2 linked regions of the Homo sapiens genome follow. The protein of the gene in region 1 purifies or fractionates together with the protein of each later gene. This does not show direct contact. Each region holds a gene or a part of one and is shown on either strand. Other genes may lie near its edges.

Region 1 (3,093 bases):
GCTGGCCCAGACCTCGGATGTGTGCTGCGGGTCTGCACCTTACCCTGTAGGCCCTGCCCCAGGATGGCCAAGCTCCGCAGCCACAGGGCCTCATGGGCCAGTCCTCCGGACCTGGATGCAGCAGCCTCGCCTCACTTGGCCCCAAGTGCTGCCTCGGCCGATGGGCTCCCAGCCACACGTGCACAGACCCCCAGACCACCACCCACTCCCTCCCGCCGGGTGGCATCCACACCCCTGTGACAAGCTCAGCCCCTTCCCATCCTCAGGCCAGGGGTTCCCAGGGAACCTGGCTCCACAGGCCAGGGTGTGGGAGGACCGCCTGGCCACACCTCAGCCATGTGGAGGCGGCACCTGCACACCCAAGCTCGCCTGTCCGGCTCTCTGGCCCTGTGCATCCACTGTGGCTCCCCTCCTGCAGGGCCGCCCACCTTCCTCCCAGGGAAGCCCGCCCCCCGGCCCCCCGCCTGGTCCCCTCTTGGGTGTGCCCAGGCTGAGCTGCCCCCAGGGTCGCCCTCACCTGGTGCGCAGGGCCTGCCAGGCGGCGTCGATGTCGGCATAGAGGTTCCTCTCGGAAGGCCTGCCCGAGCTGGCACCGTAGCCGGAGTAGTCGTAGGAGAAGATGTTGCAGTGGAGGCGGGAGCCCAGGCCAATGTAGAAGCTGCTCATCTGGCCCAGGTCCACGGCATTGCCGTGCGAGAAGAGGACCGTGTACCTGGGACAGGCCGAGAAGGGCCGTTCACATCCTCGCTCCCAGCGCCCAGCTGCAGGGCAGGAGGATGCGTAGTGACAGCCCACCCCGGTGGCCAGCCATGCCCAGTGCCTCATTTACTCCCCTCCCAAGGGGGCCAGAAGCCAGTGAATGGAGAGGGGAGGCTACGACAGCACAGCTCCATCTCCGAGGGTTCCCCATGGGGAGAGGACAGGACAGCTGGCAGGGGGACAGGCAGCCTGGGCTGCAGAGGCCAGCCAGGGAGCCTCAGGATTCCCATCTGTGAAGCGGGACACTGGGACCATCGGTCGCATCCTCTCTCAGGGCAGACTCGCAGTGTGTGCTCAGATACTGCAGGCTTCACTGCCCTTCCTCCTGGAAGAACCTGGACCCCCGGGGATGGAGCGCACAGGCCCACCTTTCAGGACCTTCCCAGGGGAGCCCATGCTGCTGCTGGCAGGGCTATCTCCCCTCACCTCACAGAATGGTGCCCTCACTGTTGGGGCACAACTGGACCCCACCCCTGCCCCCAACAAGCAAATGCGGCCAATCTCTGCTCACACTCATGCAGCCCCTCCTGGCCCACCACCCTGCCCAAGCCCCAAGGCTGTGCTGCAAGGCCTGTCTGCTTCCCAGCACGGGAGCTGCCCCAGGTGGTGCCAGGAGCAGGTGGCCAGGCTGGCCCTGCCATGGACTGCTTCCTCCAGTTCCCCCAGGCCCCCACCTAGCCCAGCCAGAAGGTAAAGGCTCGCCCTCTGGACTCAGATCTGGTCAGAACCCCACCTGGCGAGAAGGTGGATGTACCCGCAGGCCAGGGCAGCCCCTGTGCCCCAGCTCTTGCCCAGCAGGCAACCACCAGGCGCTGGGTTGTTGGAGTCGCCCAGCCTGCCCACCCATGCCAGCTGGGGATGGCCTCCCTGAGCCTGGTGTCCTTGTCTGCGAGAGAAAATTGCCAGAGGGACGAGGCCGGCCTGACGGGGGATACCACCCTTGCTGGCTGGATGGCCCTTCACGGCAGGCTCGGGCCCTCGGGGGCACCACCAACCACACCAAGCACCGCAGGCAGAAACGGGAGCCCCAAGAACAGGGTGACCCAGCCCAGGCGCGGCCACAGCTGCTCACCTGGCACCAGGCACGCAGCGAACATACATGCAGGAGACGCGGTTGCCGCGGGCGCTCTTGGTGGGGAAGACCTCGATGGTGTCCAGCTCGCGCTGGCTGTACTGGAAGTCGGCACGCTCCGTCAGGTGCAGCTTCCAGCGCCCGGGTGCGCCCGAGGAGGCTCTCAGGGTCCCCAAGGGGGCGGCCCCGGCCCCACCAGGCCCCGGCTCGGGCTCAGGCACCAGGGAGTAGGTGGCCTCCGGCGGCAGGAAGGCGAGCTTGGCAGCGATGCGGCCGGGGCAGGGCGGGCAGCAGAAGAGGCAGCAGAGCTCACTCAGCGACAGCCCATTCATGGCGGGCGCCGCCCAGGCCGGGCCTCCACCGGGGCCCCCGCCAACAACGCCGCCCGGCCTGGCCCGGCAGGGGAGGGGTGGGGGTGCTCCGAGTCGCGGGCAGGGGGGAGAGCGCCCCCCCAGCTACCGCCCCAGACAGCAGCCCCGTTAGGAGGCCAGGGCCCAGCCCCATCGCGGTCCAAGCCGAGCCCCAGGGAGCCTCGCAACCACAGGTCTCCATGTCGTGCCGTGGGAAGCCCTGCGGGGGAACAGTGACATGTGGGGTCCTTTGGGGGTGCCACAGTCCAGCTGGGCACCCCCGGGAGGCGGGGCATCCACCCGTGCCAGGGGGCGGCATGGGCCCGGGGCCTGTCAGTCCCCATCCCCTCGGCCCTCCCCACGGCCTGTCAGGCACTGCACCCTACAGCTCAGGGGACCCCAATTCAGCCCCCTCTCCACAGGATGAAGGAACCCCCACCTTCCCTGAGCTGGCGATCACCACCTCTTGCCATGTGAGTACAGCCATGGCATGCGGGGCATGCAGGGGATATGACCCCAGCCCCGCCCACACCCCCGAAACGCCCGGCTCCAGCACCAGGGAAACCCCATGCGCCAGGACTCGGTCCGCACTGCTGCCCACTCCCTCCCCCGGCCCATCTCTGCCACCCTATGGGTGACGGGCCGCTGAGGCAAGGACAGAGCTCGAACTGAAGGGACCCACGAGGGACCCGAACAGGCCCCGCTACGTGAGCGTGCACAGGCGCCGGGTCCCACCGGCCTGCGATGTCTGGAGACAGAGGAAATACAACAAACAAAGGCTCTAGAAACAAAGGCAGGATACATCCCAGGCTCCTAGGGCCCCCAGAGCAGCAACAATGGCTCTTCTCTGTGCTGGAGCCAGGCCTGCTGAGGGGCAGGGGAGGTGGGCTGGCGTCAGGGGGTCCTTCTCCA
Region 2 (3,500 bases), on another chromosome or scaffold:
CGCCCAGCCTATTCATTCATTTCTTATCCATCCACCTACCTATCCATCTGTTCATCCGTCCATCTATTTATTCATTCATCTACTCATTCATTCATTCATCCACTTATTCATTCCTTATCCATCCACTCATCTATCCATCCATCCATCCATCCGTTTATCCATCCACTTATCCATACATCCACTATTCATTTGCCCATTCATTTATTCATGATCCATTCATTCACTCATTCATTTATCTATTCATTCATTCATTTATTCCTTATCCATCCACTCATCCATCCATCCGTTCATCCTTCAATCCATCCATTCAGTCATCCACCCATTTATCAATACACCCACTATCATTCACCCATTCATGTATCTATTCATTCAATCATTTATTCCTTATTCATCCACCTATCTATCCATCTGTTCATCCATCCATCCATTTATTCATTCATCTACTCATTCATTCATCCATCCAATCATCCCTTCATTCATTCATTCATCCACTCATTCATTCCTTATCCATTTACTCATCTATCCATCCATCCATCCATCCATCCATTCATCCATTCATCCACTCTTCATTCACCTGTCTACATATCCATCCATCCACTCACTAATGTACTAATCCACTCATTCACTCATTCATTCATTTATTCATTCACCCATCTATTTATGCAGCCATCCATTCAACCATCCAACAAACAGTACTGAGGCCATGTTAATCTATTCTGGTCTCTCATCTACAAAGTCACAGCCCCTACAGGGACCCTGCTCATTCATTCCCTGTGGCTGAGACTGAAGGGGTATCTCCTGTTTCTATTCCACGTGTGGCCACCTGCTGGTCTGTCCCTGTCCTGAGTGCAGGAGTAGTCTCATTCTCCTCCACCCCAAGAACAGATGAGTGATAAATAAATACCTGGAGACAGAATGCCTCCAACCCCAGGGTAATAGCCTGAGTATCCTAGAAGTTTCCTGTGTTCATGCCAAGAGCTTGTGATGGACATATGGACACTGTAGATGGACAACAGCGCCTTCACTGAGCAGCTAGTGCCTGGGAGGCCTCCAGCTTCACTGAGCCTCAGGTTTCATCTATTGCATCTCACAGAGAGGCTGTCTGCAACATGCCCATTTCAACCACTGGCTGAGAGGCTCATGCAGGTATGCATGTGACAGGGCTCCTTGCTGGAGAGTGGGTTCCTGGAGATTCCATCAGAGCTACTGCTGCACAACTGCCCCTTGAGGAGGCCATCACAGCTCTGAGCAGCAGGCGCTGCCAGTCAGCACCGTGTGAACTCAAAGTCTTGCATTCATCCTCATACGACATCTTCAAAACCACTTTAAACGTCCCAGGGAAGCCCGGAGGAGCAAGTGCTTCCAAGAGGCTGGCTCTGGTCTTTGGATTGAGTGTGGATTTGAGTCTCTTTGAATGAGTGTGGATTTGAGTTTCTTTGAATGAGTGTGGATTTGAGTCTCTTTGAATGCGTGTGGGTTTGAGCCTCTTTGAATGATTGTGGACTTGAGTCTCTTTGAATGAGTGTGGATTTGAGTCTCTTTGAATTCGTGTAGGTTTGAGTCTCTGAATGAGTGGACTTGAGTCTGTTTGAATGAGTATGGATTTGAGTCTCTTTGATTGCGTGTGGGTTTGAGTCTCTTTGAATGAGTGTGGATTTGAGTCTCTTTGAATGAGTGTGGACTTGAGTCTCTTTGAATGAGTTGGATTTGAGTCTCTTTGAGTGTGGATTGGAGTCTCTGAATGTGCGTGGATTTGAGTCTCCTCATTCCTGCACTTTTTCAGTTCCCTTTGTTGCATGGGACAGTATAAATGACGCTCCCCATTGATCCAGTTTTGCAAGTAAAAATGTCACATGTGGAAGCCAGCATTTAGTCCTCGGGCAGATAAGCATGTTTGATGAGAATAACACGTACACACAGCGGGGCCCTTGGTCTTGGAAAGGTGGAGAATAAATCCTCCATTTCCCCTGAGACCTGACCTGCACAGGGAATATCTGCTTAATCTACACATGTGTGGCTTGTAACGACAGAGTCTCTTCAATTCTACTTACTTTATTATAGTAACAAGAGCATGCATACAGCACATTGGGAGATGGAGAAATGGAAGGAAGTGATCCAGAGTCCCTTGACCCAGCCCATTCTCTCCCTGAGACCTGGGGGATGGGACATGATCTTGCTTCTCCTTCCAGGTCTCTGGAAGGATCATCTTGTCTTATCTTGCCTGCCTCTCACCCTGTGGTTCAGAATTGCGGGAGATTCTGTTCCAGTGGGGATGCTTGTCTATATCTTGGGCAGTTTGGGGTGTCACAACTGGAGGGTGTACTCCTGGGGCGTGGTGGGTGGAGCCTGGGAAGATGCTCAGTGCCCTGCAGTGCACAGGATAGGCTCAACACAGAGAATCCTCCAGCCCTACATGGCAGCAGTGCTGAGGCTGACACCCTGCCTGAGCATGAGAGAGTCTCTGTTAGTGACTATCTATCCATCTATATCTATCTATCATATCTATCATTTATCAATTTATCTATATATCATATCTAGCTCTCTGGCACCTATATCTATTTATTTATTAATCTTCTCTGTCTGTCATCTATCTATACCTTTCTAGCATTTATCTCTCATCTCTATCATTTATCTGCCTACCATTTGACAGTGGTTTCAACTAGGGGTGATTTTTCTCATCACGGCACACTGGGTAATGTCTGAGGACAGTTCTGGTTGTCGCAACTGTGGGGGTGCTCCTGGCATCTGGTGGGTGGATCCCGGGGATGCTTCTCAATACCTTACACTGCACAGGATGGCCCCACCACAGAGAATCACCCGGCCCCAAATGTCTATAGTGTTGACGTGGAAAGATCCTGCTTTTAGTATAGAGAATCTCTCCTCTCTCTCTCTCTCTCCGTCATCCATCTATGTATCCATGTATCTATGTATCTATGCATCTATGTATGTATGTATGTATGTATGTATGTATGATCTATCTATCTATCTATCTATCTATCTATCTATCTATCTATCTATCTATCTATCTATGTATCCATGTATCTATGTATGTATCTATCTATCTCTATTACCTATCATCACCATTATCTATCTATCTATCTATCTATCTATCTATCTATCTATCTGTCATCTATCTATATGTATGTACATATCTATCTATCTTATCTATTGCTCATCTATCTAGGTATCTCTCTAATCTATCATCTATCTCTCTAATCTATTAATGCACCTATGTATGTATCTATGTATCTATCTATCTAATCTATTTATCCATGTATGTATGTATGTATCTACCTATCTAATCTATGTATGTATGTATATATGTATCTAATTTATGTACGTACATATGTATGTATCTATTCTATCTATGTATCTATCTATCTGATTGATCTATCTCTCTATCATCACCATTATCTATCTATATGTATGTGTGTATCTATCTATCCTATCTATCTATCTCTCATCTATCTATGTATCTCTCTAATCTATCATCTATTTAA

What was found. The genes of interacting proteins can lie anywhere in the genome.
Region 2: the proteins of ABHD17A (region 1) and P2RY8 purify together in Homo sapiens (co-immunoprecipitation; one large-scale study listed by IntAct). This does not show direct contact.

The regions. Positions count from the first base shown.
Region 1 is NC_000019.10:1,879,404-1,882,496, forward strand, and holds part of ABHD17A (alpha/beta hydrolase domain-containing protein 17A), read right to left. Parts: exon of another isoform or gene 2,402-3,093; 5' UTR 2,164-2,401; coding exon 1,832-2,163; intron 1,646-1,831; coding exon of another isoform or gene 1,493-1,645; intron 713-1,492; coding exon 518-712; intron 456-517; exon of another isoform or gene 1-455. UniProt on the Homo sapiens protein: Hydrolyzes fatty acids from S-acylated cysteine residues in proteins. Has depalmitoylating activity towards NRAS. Has depalmitoylating activity towards DLG4/PSD95. May have depalmitoylating activity towards MAP6.
Region 2 is NC_000023.11:1,527,186-1,530,685, forward strand, and holds part of P2RY8 (S-geranylgeranyl-glutathione receptor P2RY8), read right to left. Parts: intron 1-3,500. UniProt on the Homo sapiens protein: G protein-coupled receptor for S-geranylgeranyl-glutathione (GGG), an endogenous metabolite present in lymphoid tissues.